Homo sapiens: one gene and its partners. The protein of the gene in region 3 interacts with the protein of the main gene of each other region in a pairwise test. Each region holds a gene or a part of one and is shown on either strand. Other genes may lie near its edges.

What was found.
Region 1: the proteins of ANKRD49 (region 3) and PTCHD1 interact in a two-hybrid assay, tested with the Homo sapiens proteins (one study listed by BioGRID and IntAct).
Region 2: the proteins of ANKRD49 (region 3) and FKBPL interact in binary tests that used the Homo sapiens proteins (3 or more experiments, as listed by UniProt).

What each region holds. Positions count from the first base shown.
Region 1 is NC_000023.11:23,400,849-23,404,874, reverse strand, and holds the end of PTCHD1 (patched domain-containing protein 1), read right to left. Parts: 3' UTR 501-4,026; downstream 1-500. UniProt on the Homo sapiens protein: Required for the development and function of the thalamic reticular nucleus (TRN), a part of the thalamus that is critical for thalamocortical transmission, generation of sleep rhythms, sensorimotor processing and attention. Can bind cholesterol in vitro.
Region 2 is NC_000006.12:32,128,151-32,134,773, forward strand, and holds FKBPL (FK506-binding protein-like), read right to left. Parts: upstream 2,139-6,623; 5' UTR 1,945-2,138; intron 1,705-1,944; 5' UTR 1,631-1,704; coding exon 581-1,630; 3' UTR 557-580; downstream 1-556. Other genes in the region: ATF6B (cyclic AMP-dependent transcription factor ATF-6 beta), read right to left, coding at 1-57. UniProt on the Homo sapiens protein: May be involved in response to X-ray. Regulates p21 protein stability by binding to Hsp90 and p21.
Region 3 is NC_000011.10:94,490,087-94,497,139, forward strand, and holds the start of ANKRD49 (ankyrin repeat domain-containing protein 49), read left to right. Parts: upstream 1-3,897; 5' UTR 3,898-3,949; exon of another isoform or gene 3,950-4,084; intron 4,085-6,517; 5' UTR 6,518-6,607; coding exon 6,608-6,865; intron 6,866-7,053. Other genes in the region: double-strand break repair protein MRE11, read right to left, coding at 747-879, 2,696-2,715. UniProt on the Homo sapiens protein: Induces HBG1 expression. May have a role in spermatogenesis where it promotes autophagy in response to serum starvation, via the NF-kappaB pathway.

The DNA of each region.
Region 1 (4,026 bases), on a different chromosome or scaffold from region 3:
ACAAAACAAAACATAAACAACACTGAAGAACCCATACTAATTACTCTTAAAGAGAAATGAAATACCTGGACATAAAAAAGAAAGAAAAGGCCAGGCGCGGTGGCTCATACCTGTAATCCCAGCACTTTGGGAGACCGAGGCGGGTGAATCACTTGAGGTCAGGAGTTCAAAACCAGCCTGGTCAACATGGTGAAACCCCGTCTCTACTAACAATACAAAATTAGCTGGGCGTGGTGCACATCTGTAAATCCAGCTGCTTGGGAGGCTGAGGCAGGAGAATCGCTTGAACCCAGGAGACAGAGGTTGCAGTGAGCCAAGATCACGCCATTGCACCCCAGCCTGGGTGACAGAGTGAGACTCTGTCCCCCCCCCCCAAAAAAATCAAACTGGAGATATTCCCCTGGCCCACCGACATTTGACTCTTTGTTGTGTGCTTAGTAGAGGATTAGAAATAAACCCGAAAAAGTGAAAGCAAAAAGAGAAATATGTGAGATGATAGATATGTTAATTAGCTTGATTTAATCATTCCACAATGCATACATATATCAAAACATCACATTGTATCCCATAAATATATACAATTTTTATGTCAATTAAAAATAAATGAATAAAAAAGAAAAGGTGAAAGCAATACATTTGAAATCTCCTTTACATTCGAAATTTGATATCAGTATTGAAAACAGGATGCTTCATTGGAAGATGGGATTTTAATATGAAAAGATAGTCAACTAAGGACTCCATGTATTTGGCATGAGCCATTTCCCAGGTGACTTGGGGGCTTCTACATTGTATAAACTCGATGTGCAAGCATGAAAGATCGCCCTCTGGTGAAAGCTGGTCAGATGGAGAGGAACGGTGGAATTGCCAATCATCAGTGGGATGGTTTTCCCTGCTGATTTTGTTTCTGTGTAGGTGTGGGATGATTTAAATGCATATTTTAGGCATTAGAGAAACTCAAGTAGTACAAAATACCGGATTTTTTTTTTCCTGAAAGAGTTGGCCGTTTTTTATTACCTTGATTTTTTAAACTATCTTTAAAAGGGAAAAATACTGTACATATTTGCCTCAAATGTAACAAGTTTAGTCATATTTTTATAGATATTAAGAAATGCAGGGGTCTGGGGTGGCATACACAGCCTCTTCAGATAAAACATTTCTGTTTATATCCACGAACCATTCCCCTGTAGATACTGCAAATAAGCAGTAGAAACATCTAGGCTTGTTAATGTTCAGAAGGGCCTTGCTATGATGATGTAGAGGGTACCAAAAAAGATCTGTGTGTCTCTTGACTTTCGGTAAAAATTAGAGTTTATTAATGCCCCTTGCTGCAAAGTATTACAGCTCTTTGTGGGAAATTGTTCTGGGTACATTTTTGATTAAATTCCACCCTGAGCACGTTCTGCCTTTCCTGGAGAAAAGTGATGTGACTCACATTTTTTAAAGCTTTAGGTTTGACTATTATTTTTTTCTAGTAGGGTTTTATGCTTATCTGTCTCAAAACTGACCAAGCTGAACTCATTATGTGCTCTAGCATTTGGATACTTTTTCCTAGTTTGAAAATAGTTTATTATGACCAGAATCACCCACTTGCCTAAGTGTGAAGAAACCCAACTAAAATACTGGGAAACACAACATTAACTATGGGGTCTTTTTGGAGGAACAGATGATAAGGTTTCTGAATACTGAATTAGTGGTTACTTTGACAAGCTGTGGTCTTACGATCTATTGCCATGGAAGCAACTTAAAAATGTATTGTGATTTAGCCCAAAACTTTACAATGTAATATGCAATTTCAGGAACTTCTTTCACTAGCAATGACAATAAGAGAGGGGCCATGTTTAAATGTTTAAACTATTTTATGTCTAGGGTGAGGATCTTTTCCAACATTACTAAATATTCAACATAGCTTCTCTTCTTTTTTGTTTTCTCACCTACTACAATTGGACTGTTAAAGCAACATTGAACAGTTATCACTATTTTGTCATTAATAATTATTGGCAGAGATTATCTTTGCTGTTAAAAATACTAAGAGCATTGGCTATGTAGACATATTTTTTACAACTTTGAAACCTTTGTACATTTAGAGGAATGAGAGAAGTTTGATCAAGAAATTACTAAAACCAAGCTGAAATTTCTTTTGTTTGGGCCTAGCATTCAATAATTCAATAATTTTGCTCAAGGGTTCTAAGCTGGATTGTAAACCACAACAAATAGTGGGTGGTTGTATTATGGGATCATAAACAATAGGAAGAGAACTTGAGTGTATTCAAAGCTGCTGAAGAGGAATTATAGGTCAATAATTCAAAAGAGAATATGGGGTCTCTTTATTCAGAAAAACATAGATTCAGGCTCTGTATCTTTATCTTATAGACAATCCAGAACAATTTACATTATCCTCAGCTCATATTCAGTCATTCCTCACATATTTGATTGTTTTCAGCTTCCCAGTAATTACTTTTTCCCTGTTATACTCTATGCCAAGGTTTTTTGGGGGAACTGCACTAGGGTTCCTCTTAATGTCCCCTCCCATCCACTCTGTGTGTGTGTGTGTGAGAGAGAGAGAGAGAGACAGAGAGTTTGGTATAAGCTTCTAAGCTTCTAGTCTTGGATAGTTCTTCTGTTGCTTGTGTGACTGTTCTTCTAAATGGATGTTGCCTATCACCAGGCCTCCATGCATGGCACTTCCTTTCCTTGAGGTTGATGAAATGCACCGGTTTTCCCGTCAAACTGATGCTAGGGATCAATGGAAACTGCCCACTTCTTCCTAAGACGAGGAGTTGGCAATTTGGAGGGATCACCCCATATATTCTTCCTCACCACTTCTTTCCCCCTTCTCTGGATCACCAAGCAAATATTCTAAATAAATTTCCACAATTCCATACCTTGGAAGAGATCTCTGTCGTTTTGGGTCTATGCTATTCTTCTTGCTTATGACTTGGAAAATTCCAACAAATGCAATTTTCCCACTGTGAAACTGTTAGCAATTTTTAAATTGCAAGGCACATTCACTTTTCCAGGTTTCTTTTCTTTAAAGCTTACTATTTGGCTGCTCTTAGCTGTGCTCGTGCATAAGAAACATATAGAAGGGGAAGATAACATTTTTTCAATGGTATCCTGCAGACATCCGAAGCCTTTGGCCTGCCAAACCTTACAGAACTATAGGGCTGGGCCTGCCAAGGCATTTTAATGTGCCTCAAATGTGTCAGGCATATTGTAAAAGGTGGTGTGCATGTGTATGTGTGCATGCACATCTGTGATATGTGTGTATGTAAGCATGTGCATATGTACAGGTATATGTTTCTATGTTTTATAGTTGTGTTGTACACACATATATGCATGTGTACATTTATGTGTGTCAATGTGTATGTGTGTGTGTGAAGCAGAGCCAACGGGTCATTACCAGTTTGCCCAGTCACCCACAGTCCTGGGAGGCATCGTGGCAACTGCCTTGGTGATTCTGGATCAGTGCGTAAAGGCAATTTTGACAGGATGGTAATTTAAAGAATAAATATCTGAAAGGCTGAGCTAAACATGTTCAAGATTCATCCTAGAAAATTAAGGAAATTGTTTTGTCAAAGAGAACGTTATTAGTTTTCCTGAGCATGAGCCTGGAATGAGTAATGGAAATGGGCTGGGTCTTTGCCATTTTGCAGGAATTAGACAAAGCACTTTGTTGATCCTAATGAACAAAGCCCTTGCCGGGCACGGTGGCTCACGCCTGTAATCCCAGCACTTTGGGAGGCCGAGGCGGGTGGATCACGAGGTTAGGAGATCGAGACTATCATGGGTAACACGGTGAAACCCCATCTCTACTAAACACACACACACACACACACACACACACACACACAATTAGCCGGGCGCGGTGGCGGGCACCTGTAGTCCCAGCTACTCAGGAGGCTGAGGCAGGAGAATGTCGTGAACCTGGGAGGTGGAGCTTGCAGTGAGCTGAGATGGCGCCACTGCACTCCAGCCTGGGTGACAGAGTGAGACTCCATCTCAAAAAAAAACAAACAAACAAACAAA
Region 2 (6,623 bases), on a different chromosome or scaffold from region 3:
GTCGGTGAAGAAACGCGTCGGGTCAGCAATCTCGCTGAGCAGCATCAGCTCCGCCATCTTTCCCCCCCACCCCCCAACCAGGAGACGGTTCCCAAGGCCCGCCTCTCCCCATCACCAACTAATCAGTTGACTCTTTCAAAAAAGGGGGCGTCCCGGAAGCTCTACCGACCAGTAAGAGACCTGGGTGCTGAGCACGTGAATCAACAGATGCGGATGACTGTGTAGGCGGGCCCAATGGGAGCACAGCAGCAGGAAGTAACTTCCAGACAGTGCCATACCGCCAAGCGCATGCGCCAAACAGGCTCCAGTGATAAAGCGCCTGGGAGATGTAGTACCCAGTATTAAGGTCCACCATCTCCCCCAGCCACTACTAAGTTTAGTTTAGACAGCTTCTATGTGTCCTCGGAGATAGATAAGCCCCTCAAAAGGGGCGCACTGTGACCACTGCTACCTCCCCTAGGAAGCCAAAAGCTGAGAATGGGATATGGGCTGAAACCTTCCCTCTGGCCCCCCACCCCCAAATCTCACAGCACAGACCACAATTCACAAGTTCCTGTCTCTTTTAAGGTTTAACTTTTAATCAGCCAAACATCTTGCGCAGACCCTGAGCCAGCCCTGCATCCTGGTTCTTCCCCTGAATGACCACCTTCCCCAGTTCCTCCTGGGCTGCCCGGTTTTTGGGATCTATCGCCAGCACCTTCTTGAGGTCAGCAGTTGCTTTTTCCAGGTTCCCAAGGGCAGCCTGGGCAACCCCCCTTCGGTATAAGGCCTTTAAATGGCCAGGCTCCCGCTCCAACACCCGGTCACAGCTCTGGGCTGCCAACTGAGGCTGCCCTAGCAACAACTGACAGGCAGCCAGATTGGCATGAAGGACAGTTCGTTCTGGAGGGCCAGGTGGGGGTAAAGTCAGGAGCAGCCGAAGAGCCCGTCCATAGCATCGGGCAGCTCCTTCAGGGTTCCCAGCTCGAAATAGTTCTGTGCCCCTTGCACGTTCTTCCCTGGCCAGGGCTTCCTTCTCGCTAGTCTCCAGCTCCCAGGAGTCTCGGCCTTGAGTGAAGGATGCCAGTGTGAGCCTGACAGGAGGTCCAGAGTGCCCAGGCAGCTGAAGCTCTGCTTCCTCACCTTGACACATGGACTCCAAGCATTTCTCTATGAGCTCCCCCCAAGTTTCCTCCCTCCATGGCCCTACGCCCATAGTTAGCTCTGTCCAGCCCTCTGGCGGCCCTGATCCGAAAGGAAACCCCAAAGCCAGTACCCGGCAGCAGGAGCCTAGTTTGGGTTTGTCCAAGCCATGGCCACGGATTACGATCTTCTTGACAAAGCTCCCATCGGGGCAGTACCAGAGATCAGAAGCTTGAAGGGCCTCTGGCATCTGACTGGTTGATCCATGAGACTTATGAGAGTCTCCTTCAAGTTCAGCAACCAGTTTTTCAGCTCCTTGAGTATGCTCTAGAATTTGGCTGGCTGGATCTGGGCTTACTTCCAGCTCAAGCGTTTCGGTAGGAGGGTCTCGGGGCTGCTGCCTAATCTGAATAACTGAATCAAGGTTCTCCCGAAGGTTCTTTTCCCACTCTTGTTGCGGCTGAGAGGTGTCCTTTTCTCCAATTGTATTGACTGGTGGCGTCTCCATATGGATGCTTAGTCCCTTCCACGGTGAGTGAACAGTTTTGGTCAGAAAGGGATGAACCAGGTTCAGGTCAGCACCTGAAAAGAAAACCAAACAATGCTAATAGCAGGGTTCTTATTTAGACTCCTTTCTCGTCCTTTCCCATTCTTCTGAGACCCAGGCCCCTAGTCCTGAAAGTCCCCAGTTTTGCTTTCCTCCAAAAATCTGCTCCAGCTTCCCCGTTCCACCCACATATAATTTAGAACTATAAATTCCACAATTCCCTGCGGTTAAGGTAGCCGCGCCAACTACGGACACCCGGTCGGGTCAATAAGTACCTGCGCGGCCAAAGTGCCTAGCATGGTGACAGGAGGAGCCGGGCCATTCGAATCACCTCTCCTTCCAAAGCTAAATGGCTACTGAATGCTGCCCTCGGAGCCTTGCCCCACGCGGAGAGGGCAGCCGGAGAGGGGCGCGGTGCGGGAGGCGGGGGTAGGGGGCGGAACAACTGGGAAAGATACTGACAACTAACCCTGGAGCCCGCGAGACTCCGAATCTAGTCAAATTCCTGGCAGCCAATCGGGAGAAGGGAGGAATCTGGTTAGCCCGCCTATTGAACGTGACATCATTTCCTCCGCAACCATGAAGCTCCAGGCCTTAGCAACTGAACTAGGCCAGAGCAACCGAACTAGGCAGAATCGAACAGAATTTGGCGCGGTCGGGCTGGCCAGGCTGCTCAAGAGTCAAAGTGGGCCAACATGGTGAGACCCTGTCTCTACTAAAAATACAAAAATTAGTAGGTCATGGTGGCGCGCGCCTGTAATCCCAACTACTCGGAAGGCTGAAACAGGAGAATCGCTTGAACCCGGGAGACAGACGTTGCAGTGAGCCGAGATCACACCATTGCACTCCAGCCTGGGCGACAGAGCGAGACTAGAGACTCCGTCTCAAACAAAAAAAAAAAAAAAAAAAAAAAAAAAAGGTGGGCCGGGCGCGGTGGCTCACGCCTGTAATCCCAGCACTTTGGGAGGTTGAGGTCAGGAGTTCAAGACCAGCCTGGCCAACATGGTGAAACCCCGTCTCTACTAAAAATGCAAAAATAGCTCGGCGTGATGGCGGGCGCCTATATCCCAGCTACCCAGGAGGCTGAGGCAGGAGAATGGCTTACCTGGGAAGCGGAGGTTGCAGTGAGCCGAGATCGCGCCATTGCACTCCAGCTTTGGCAACTGAGACTCTGGGAGGCTGAGGTGGGCGGATCACGAGGTCAGGTGATCGAGACCATCCTGGCAACATGGTGAAATCTCGTCTCTACTAAAAATACAAAAAGTTAGCTGGGCATGGTGGCGTGTGCCTGTAATCCCAGCTACTTGGGAGGCTGAGGTGGGAGAATCGCTTGAACCAGGGAGTCGGAGGTTGCAGTGAGCCGAGATGGTGCCACTGCAATCCAGCCTGGCGACAGAGCAAGATTCCCGCCTCAAAAATAAATAAATAAATAAATAAAAAGCCGGGCATCGCGCACGCCTGTAATCCCAGCAATTTGGGAGGCCGAGGCGGCGGGGGGGGGCGGGGCGGGGGGAGGGGGCGGGGCGGCGGGGGGATCACTTGAGGTCAGGGGTTCGAGACCAGCCTGGACAACATGGTGAAACCCCGTCTCTACTAAAAATACAAAAAATTAGCTGGGCGTGGTGGCGGGCACCTATAGTCCCAGCTACCCGGGAGGCTGAGGCAGGAGAATGGCATGAACCCGGAAGGCGGAGCTTGCGGTGAGCCAAGATCGTGCCACTGCGCTCCAGCCTGGGCGACAGCGCAAGACTCCGTCTCAAACAAACAAACAAACAAACAAAAAGTCAAAGTGTAGAGAAGTCCTGGAATGGAGACTGGGGGCGGATGACAATAGAGTGGAGAATGGCAGAGGTCGTGGTAAATGATAGTGGCAGCAGCCTTTTATCTGGAGACTTCAGGCCCTCCTATGCTAACTATCTTTATGTTCAGAGCTCATTCAGTACAGGGTGTTCTCCAGGATAAAACCTCGGGACTCTCTCTCCAACCGGCCCTGTCCCTTGGGTGACTACCTGAGGCTTCTCTTTACCTTTCCTTTCACATCCATCATTGCCTTTCAAGTCCTCCTTCATCAAGAAATCTTAGTGCTTTTCAAACATAAGTGTGCATACATATCACCTAGGGAACTTGTTAAGTTGCAGATTATGATTTAGGAAGTCTGTTGTGGGGCCTGTGATTCTGCATTTCAATAAGCTGGTTAATGCAGATGCTGCTGGTTCATAAACCGTATGTTTTTCTTTTTTTTTTTTTTTTTTTAGAGAGATGGGGTCTGCTGTGTTTACCAGGCTGGTCTCAAACTCCTGGCCTCAAGCCATCATCCCATCTCAGCCTCCCAAAGTGCTGGGATTATAGGTGTGAGCCACCACACCCAGCAATGAACCAATGGGATGAGATTCTAGAACAGTCTCATCCCATTGTCTTCTCCCCTGGCTCTGTGCCCCTTTAGTTTATCCTACATTTTACATGTATAACTGGTGTGACCTGCTCCACTGGATGTTGCAGGTTCTCCTCCTAATAGAAGATGTAGAGACCTATTGTGATTCAGTCTTGCTTGTCCAGCTACCTACACAGCCTGGGCTACCACAGTTCTCCAGGAAAGAAGGATCCCTCTCTTGAGTACCTCACTTTGGCTCCCTCTTAAGTTTGCTCTCACCATTGTGCCTCAGACTATAAAAACCATGCCAGGACAGCCAGGAAGGGAGACGGTTTCATCATTAGCCAAAGACTTGTGTCAAAACAATTCTCTCCCTGGTTTTGTTTGTTTGTTTTTGTTTTTTTGTTTTTTGTTTTTTTTGAGACGGAGTATCACTCTGTCACGCAGGCTGGAGTGCACTGGCGAGATCTCGGCTCATTACAACCTCTGCCTCCCAGGTTCAAGCGATTATCCTGCCTCAGCCTCCCAAGTAGCGGGGATGACAGGCACCTGCCACCATGCCTGGCTAATTTTTGTATTTTTAGTGAAGATGGGGTTTCACCATGTCAGCCAGGCTGGTCTCAAACTCCCGACCAGAAGTGATCTGCCCACCTCGGCTTCCCAAAGTGTTGGGATTACAGGCGTGAGCCACGGCGCCAAGGCAGGCGGATCACTTTAGGTCAGGAGTTTGAGACCAGCCTGGCCAACATGGTGAAACCCCGTCTCTACTAAAAATACAAAAATTAGCTGGTGTGGCGCATGCCTGTAGTCCCAGCTACTCAGGAGACTGAGGCAGGAGAATCGCTTGAACCTGGGAGGCGGAGGTTGCAGTGAGCTGAGATCGCGCCACTGCACGGAGGCCGAGGCGAGCGGATCACAAGGTCAATATGGTGAAACTCCGTCTCTATTAAAAATTCAAAAATTAGCCTGGCGTGGTGGCACACGCCTATAGTCCCAGCTACTTGGGAGGCTGAGACAGAAGAATCGCTTGAACCCAGGAGGCGGAGGTTGCAGTGAGCCAAGATCACACCATTGCACTCCAGCCTGGGCGACACAGCAAGACTCTGTCTCAAAAAATAAATAAATAAATAAACACAAATACAAATATAGGCATTGAAACCCCTAAAAAAAACCTAATCCAAATCATCATGTATGAAAATATTTCTCTTTTTAAAAATATGGCCCATCAAGAGGTAAGCACAAACTTAAAGTTTTAGAAGAGTTCCCCAGAGAAGATAGCCATGGACCTGTAGATTCCCCCTAGTCTTAACTTGAGAAACACAGGACTAGGAAGGGACCAACAACCTGTGAAGATTCAGAAATAGGAAAGAGTGGCCAGGCGCAGTGGCTCATGCCTGTCATCCCAGCACTTTGGGAGGCCAAGGTGGGTGGATCACTCGAGGTCAGGAGTTTGAGACCAGTCGGGCCAACATGGTGAAACCCCGTCTTTACTAAAAATACAAAAATTAGGCTGGTGTGGAGGTGTGTGCCTGTAGTCTCAGCTACTTAGGAGGCTGAGGCAGGAGAATCGCTTGAACCCGGGAGGCAGAGGTTGCAGTGAGCCGAGATCACACCACTGCACTTCAGCCTGGCGACAAAGTCGCCTTATCCAATTTCCTTTCCTTTCCTGAGGTAGAAAGGAATTTGAGAAATTCTGTCTCAAAATAATAATTTGTAAAAAAAGAAATAAGAAAGAGTATAGGCTCTCCCCCAAAGTGTAGATACTACATGCTTGTTGACTGACTCACACTATCTCCCTCAAGTCTAATTGTGCCAGAGCTCAGCTCTTTGGAGGCAGTCATCAAGGAATCAAGACGAAAGAGAGCCACAAACCAGGAAGATTATATCCTTAAGCCTGGCTAGAGAACAAGACATTTGAGAAAGATACATAAAGAGGATGACAAGTGAAATTTGCTTATCTGTTGGGATAGATGCTTGGACTGGAAAGTGGGGAAACAGCAATGTCTCTCTCCTCTCCCTTTCCCCTAAAGATTTGAGAATGAAATGGAAGATGAGCAGGCATGAGAGGAAGAGATGAAAAGGAATCTTCTTCCCCAAGGGACTGGATCCAGTCTCTTCTTGTCACTACAAATTGTCCTCTGCTCCCTCTCTTCCTTTGGTGTTGCAGGGACCAACATCACCAATACCTCCAGAAATCGTGTGAATGCAAATGGGACATACTTACCCCGTCTTGCTACACAGAAACCTCTCGAAAAGTGAGACTCTGGGTTAAGAAGGTCAAAGAGGGCCAGGTGCAGTGGCTCACGCCTGTAATCCCAGCACTTTGGGAGGCCAAGGTGGGCAGATCACATGAGGTCAGGAGTTCGAGACCAGCCTGGTCAACATTGTAAAACCCCATCTCTACTAATAAAATATAAAAATTAGCCAGGTGTGGTAGCGGGCGCCTGTAATCCCAGCTACTTGGGAGGCTGAGGCAGGAGAATCGCTTGAACCTGGGAGGCAGAGGTTGCAGTGAGCCAGGATCACACCATTGCACTCCAACCTGGGCAATAGTGTGAAACTCCGTCTCAAAAAAAAAAAAAA
Region 3 (7,053 bases):
TGGTATTATACTCCGCTGCCAAAAGACTTTCTCTTGAACTGGATACAAATTTCTCAATCTGATATTTGAAGTCCTCATTAATGCAGCTCAAATCCTTCCTTCTAGTCTCTCAGCATGCTTGCTAACTATGACCTGCTGGTGAGCCAAATTGACTACAGGGCCCCTAACATACCTTATACTGTCTCACGGGTTTCCTCACTCCTGCTTCACATGGATGTACATTCTCTATGCTCCCCACTGGCCAAAAGTCTACCCTTCCTCCAAAGCCCAAGTTAAACACAACCTTCTTCATTAAACTCATCTTGCTATAATCTAAACGTGATTTTTTCTGCCTCTAAACTCAAAGGAAATGTTATTTAGAATTTTCTTAGGGCTCCTATCACATACAACCTTGCATCTGTGGATTGTGGATATTTGTCTTTCACACCAGTTTTCTTCTACGTTATCTGAAAGCAGAAGCTTTGACAGTCACCTTACATTTCGAATAGACACTGCCACAGGATCCTGCATTCAGTAAACACCCCAAAAACATTTGTAAATTTTAACAGACTATTTACAAAAGTAGCTCCTACTTGAATTTAAGACACAAAGCATACAAAATCAGCTTTGAGCTTTCAGTATATTGATATTCAAGCAGGCAAGGTAAGCACCTGAGCTTATAAAACAAATCTCTAACTTTAGAAGGAAAAATAACTTGTTAACCAAGGGAATATGGTAGATAGTGCACAAATACAAACCACACTCACTTCATTTTCCTGGGCAAGTCTTAAAATTTCATCGAGTGTTACAAACGTATCATTTCCTCTGACTGCATCTTTCTCCATAAATCCAAGATGAATATCTGTTGCAACTAATATTTTAAATGTGTTTTCATCATCACTATATTAAGAAAGAAGAAACATTTCAATATATTAATAATTCATTAAAGGATATTCAAACAAATTGAGACAAACTTATAAAATAAATAATAACAGTTATAGAGTAAAATCATTTTTTTTAGCCTTAGAGTTCATCTGAAAATCTGAAGTATTCAACGTTATCATTAACATTACAGTTTTCCTAACCACTAGTTCAATACAGAACAAATGTACATAAATCTTTACAAGGTTCTATAACTGCTTCAAAAATTTATAACCTTGTTATAACCAGTTTTACAAACTCATGTAACCCAGGCCCAAAAGTTTGCTTGTTTTCCTCAGATAAATAAACTTGTTATTTATCTGACTTCGTACTCTTCCAGGAAAATCGAAGTTAATTTAAAAAGCCTTCCTCTAAGTTTATGAGTCAATTTTATACTAATATGCAATAATTTACATTCAGGGCCTTGAAGACACTTGCATGACTCTACTCTCTACAGAGTTAGATTTCATTAATAAAGTTGGCCAACACAGAATTGTTTCAATTTGAATTTGGTAATATTCAAAGGTACTTTAATGTGAAGTAGCAATGTAATAGTTATTAATACTCTTACACTAAATTTAATTGTATGAAATACTTTTATTTTTATGATCTCATCTCAACCCTCACAGATAAAGAGTCAGGCATTATTATCTCTGACAAATGAGAAGGCTAAACCCAGAGAAATTAACTGCTTTATCACATAACTAGTGACAGAAACAGGACTAAAACCCATGATGAAAACTCAGGCTATTTTCAATAAACCACAATGAATTTTTAAAAAATCTCTGTATATATCTCCAAAATTCAAATCTTTACAAACAAAAGATATTTCCACAAACGATTTCTCTTCAAAAACTTCAAAAATGATATGCACACAGTTCTCACTGATATATCCAAGAAGGTAGGTCAGATACTTTTCAAATCATAATACTACATGTTTCTGTAGCAATTTATGAAGTATTTTCTCATGAATTCTCTCATTTAAGCCTCAAAATTAATCTGAAAAAGGTATAATTATTCCAATTATACCAATGGCAAAATTGAGGCAAGGCTCAGAGAACTGCTGACTTGCCCAAGGTCACACAGCTAGTAGGGTCCAAGGACTTGAAACTAGGGTAAAAGACTCCAAGTCTAAAGTCTTTCCCACATAACTTTTTTTTTTTACGATCTCGGCTCACTGCAACCTCCGCCTCTCGGGTTCAAATGATACTCCTGCCTCAGCCTCCTGAGTAGCTGGGATTACAGGCATGCGCCACCACGCCTGGCTAATTTTGTATTTTTAGTAGAGACGGGGTTTCACCATGTTGGTCAGGCTGGTCTCCAAATCCTGACCTCAGATGATCCCGCTAGCCTCGGCCTCCCAAAGTGCACATAACTTTTACAGTCCTTTTATTTATTCCCATTCCATTCAAATTCATTTCCAGCTTATTTAATACTAGAGGAATTTACTCTAAAAATCTTAAACAGAACTGCATTGACTAATAAGAATTTGTCAGGAAAATTCAAGAATATTTATCACTTCAATAATTTAAGATGAAGCCTAAGAACATAAACAATACTATATCAATATATCAAATTACTGCAAGACTCCAATCTATAGCTGCATATTAGCTTCCAGTTAACAAACAGATAAATATTTAAAACATTCCAAATACCCTTTTTGATGACTAATATTTCTGTTCATAAACAGGTTCCTTATTTACTGCTTATTAAATAAGTTTTCTTTTACTGTGATCACAGTTGACGAGCTTTAGAAACCCCAAATAACAAGGGATTCCAGAAGTCAGGTGCTTACAGTGCATCTGCAGTACTCATTTTTATGGTCAGTCAAGCTCCTCTGGGACCAGGTTCTTCTCCAAGAACCCCTGGGTACTGTACTCAAATGTCAGAAAATGCACTCGATTCCAAATTCTAGAAATTCTAAAAACAAAATTACATCATAAAACACATTTTTTAAAAGCCTGCACGTATTTAACCAACATGATTTACGCTGCACAAGGTACAGACGTCTTAATTAGACTGGCAAATTTAGAAGTCTCATTTTCATCTAAGCACCCACTATACTTTTTTTTAATGAACTGAGCATAGAAAATAATATATCTCCAGTGTACATCCTGTTTCCTAGTTTCACCAAGATGATTAAACTCCTATTTTCCTTTCCCGTGCTCTTATGGGAAATTAATGTATGCTAAATAAATGGGCAGAAAGGGTCACATACGGTTCTGGTTCAACACACAAACAACTCTAGATGTGCAGATATTTTTAAGTTGCACGCATAGGTTACTCTGGAGAACAGAGGCAATCCTGTATTTCCTATTCAAACCCCACGATTTTTTTTAAAGGACCTGGCTAGTTTGGAAAAGGGAACGGGCCCGCGTTTAAAGCGAGTGTAAATAAACAAACACGTGGTCTGCGGAGGAACACCTTTAAGCACCAGCAGGATGACTGAAAATAGCCAGGTTTGGGGAAGAGTGGCTGCCACCGCGAGACAACCCCCACCACATCTGGAGCTCCAGATTCCGTCGGGATTCCAAGCCTCAACACGCCCTCACCGCAGGGAACCTCGGAATCAGAACGCTGAGCCCGCCAGGACCCCTCCCCTGCCCACTCGGCCCGCTCTTCCCGAGGTTCCAGTTAACTCTGGGCTTCCGCCTGGGAACCTGCAGAAACAGGAGACGAATGCGATTCCTAAATTACCCCACTGCTGGACTCTTCGAAGCCCCACAATCGCGACCCAAGGCTGTCTTCTTTTCGGGAAGAAAGGGCAGGATCCGTGAAAAGAAAACAACACGGTCTGAACTTGCCTCTGAGAACCCGCAGGGCCGTAAACCTGAATTCCGCGGGAGAGAACGGCGTCCGTTTCTCTCGCGACACTTCATGGATAACGTAGATGCTTCAAGTCCAGTTCGGCTCTCATTGGCTACCGCACGCAGTGAGGGGGCGGGGAAAGTAGCGGCGAGGCCCCGCCCTCACGCAGGAGCCAATCCTGAGCAGGCTAGGAGACGAACCCGGAAGTGAGATGCAAGGCGGCGATTTTCCCTTCTGTCAGGTGGGTTGTTATTCCCTGTCCCGGACCTCGCTTTTTGATGGACCGGCGCCATCTAAGAACTCCTGAGCCCGTGGGGGTGGGTAGCCTGTGGACACAGGCCGAGCCCTGCAGGTCAGGCCGCTTCGTGGTCCCCAGGTAGGACCGAAGCCGCTTCTCCGCTCTTGGCTGTTTGGAAGGCCGCAGGCGGAGCTCACGGGCCTGTGAGCTCCCGGCTGGTGGCAGAGTGCCGGAGCTGGATCCCCTCTCCCTCCCTCCCAGTCGCCAGACCCTCTACAGGTGTCGCCCCTAGGTCCTTGAGTTCAGCACATCTGCACTGCTTTGTGCTGAGAGCAGTAAGATGTATAGTGCAGCGAAAAATAATGTAGAACTTTTGAATTAGAACGTCTGCCCTTTCAGTTCCATTGAAGGGTCCTTGATCTAGGGCAAGTTGTTTTAATCTATCTGAACCTCCTTCACCAGTAAGGTTTATAGCCCCGCCTATCACTGAGTTGTTTGTAAGGAGTTGACATAGTTCGGATCTCTCTCAAAATAGGATATGCCCTTTAAGTTAGGAAACATACCCTGACATTCCTGATGGAATATCAGGAATATCATCATCAAGTCATCAGTTTTGTTTCTTAACTGTAAGTCGGGTAGATGCGCCTAGGCTTGGCTTTTTAAACTAAATATACCAGTAAAATTTTGTACATAATTTTTTGTATCTGGATCTGTAAACTCAAAATTTATATAAAGGGAGTTTTTATTGAAAGGAAAAGCATGTTGGGGGAGAGGGTAAGATCTGTGGTATAAGGTTACTATATTTGATATAATTACAAGTGAACTTTTATTTATTAGCATCTGTTAAGTGTTTAATGAATTGATGTATGGTCATTTTTGTGTTGCAAGGTTCAGGAATTAGTTTGAGAATCAAAGAAAAAGTGGAAGCTCCAGGAGAATTAATAAAACACAGAGCAATTCTGATTGGATATCTCTGATTCCAAGGGTGTCTCTGATTGGGTGACTGAAAAGCCGGATTGGCCTTAGGAATACTTTAGTAAAATTCTTACATTTTACAATAAAGTAACAGGACCAGAAAAGTTACTGGACATGAGTAATACATTTAAACTTGAGTTTAGTGCTATTGCCACTAGTAATAAAGTTTAATACCACATTAAGATTGTATACTGTTAAACTTGTGAGATTAGGTATCAAGAAATCAGTATCTTGGGGTTATGCCTAACTCTGGAACTTCTCAGAATCCATTCCAGGCAAAATCAAGTGACAAGACTTTAATTAAATGTAATGCTACACATACTTCTTAATGCCTTCTATAGACAAGTAGGAGATAAATATAAGTTAAATGTGGTCCTTATCTTTCAGCTTATAATCTTTTAAGGGGCTAAAACAAGAACAAAGTTAGAGGTGAAATGTAGCACCAAAAAAAGTAGAAAGCAGAAAGCGATCTAAATGAGAGGATCAAGAAAGAATGAAAGAGATAACATCAGAGAAGAGCCTTGAAAGACTGATTATATTTCAACAAATAGAGTTGAGAGGCTGGGAATTCGTATTTGTAAATTATCTATTGGTTATTCTCCTTTTCTTTAATTGATTAAGGTTTATATGTTGTGTAACCCTTTAAGCTGATATTGGTTTAAAAATTAATATGGCAGCTTAGCAGAATAAACATCAGTTCCTTCAGGAAGCCTTCTTTAATCCCTTAGGACTAGGGGAATTATGAACCTCCTGTATACTCATGGTTTCTAGACAAGGTCTTGTAGTAGTACTTATCATGTTGTCTTTGCCAGACACATGATGTCTTTGCCAGTCACCTACACTAGAGTAAGCTTCCTGAGGTGAAGACATGGATCTTGCTCATTATTGAATCCCAGTACCCAGAAGTTGGCACATACCAGACATTCTATTCATATTAGTTGAATGAAGGAATGAATGACAGCCAAAATTCAGTTGAAAACAAGGACCCAACTAAGAACTATAGTTGCCTATCAATAAACAGGACTACTTTTTAAAGCAGTGAATTTTCCTAGGCCTGAAATTATCAAAGTAGAAATAGGATAATTAGTGTAGATGCTGTGATAAAGATATATGTACCGATGACAGATTGGAACAGATGTCCTTTTGGGGGCTATTCCATCTTCAAGAATCCCTGATTCTTCGAAATAGTATTTTTAGGAATTAGAAGTTTTTATTTCTGCTCTATATTATCTGTGTGTCTAGTTTATAAAAATCTTGAATGCACCTGTCTTCATTGTATTAGTTATACTTCAAAACCTTTAAGCATTCATCACTGTTAGCATAACACCATCATACCTAAACCAGTAGATTAAAAATAATAGTTATAATAATATAATTGACTTAGAAGAAAACAACAAAAGTAAGAAGCATTAGACCACTATTAGATCATAGTTTGTTGTTTTCTGTCAGCATCAGTATTTAGTGTATGTAAGGGATATCATGAGAAAAACAAGAGTTTAGACAGGGTTTAATTGTATATGTTTGCAAGACTTATCTATGCAGTTGATAAAGCCTGAATTATTGTTTTACTAATAACTTTTGTATTTGTGTTTTCAGATCTTGATGAACAAAGCAGTCATAATTCATCTCTAGAAAGATTTATATCCTGGCATTTGAAATGCTTTTTATTTAGAATAGTAGTAAAAAATGGAAAAAGAAAAAGGAAATGATGATGGAATACCAGACCAAGAGAATTCCTTGGATTTTTCTGAACACTTTAACCAACTTGAATTGTTGGAAACACATGGACACCTTATTCCTACTGGTACTCAAAGTCTTTGGGTAGGCAATTCTGATGAAGATGAGGAGCAAGATGACAAAAATGAAGAGTGGTATCGATTGCAAGAAAAAAAAATGGAAAAAGACCCAAGCAGATTGCTTCTTTGGGCTGCTGAAAAAAATCGGGTAAAAAAAAAAATTACAGAGGGAAGTGTGACAGTAGGAAAAGCACTGGGTTCAAGCCAGAAGACCTGCCTTTACTGTTATGGCCATCATACCTATCTCTTGATTGTGAGGACCAAATGAGACAATGTACATGAAAGCACATATTAAGCTGCAAAGTGTCATGCTAGGTATTATTTGGGGGTTTAAGG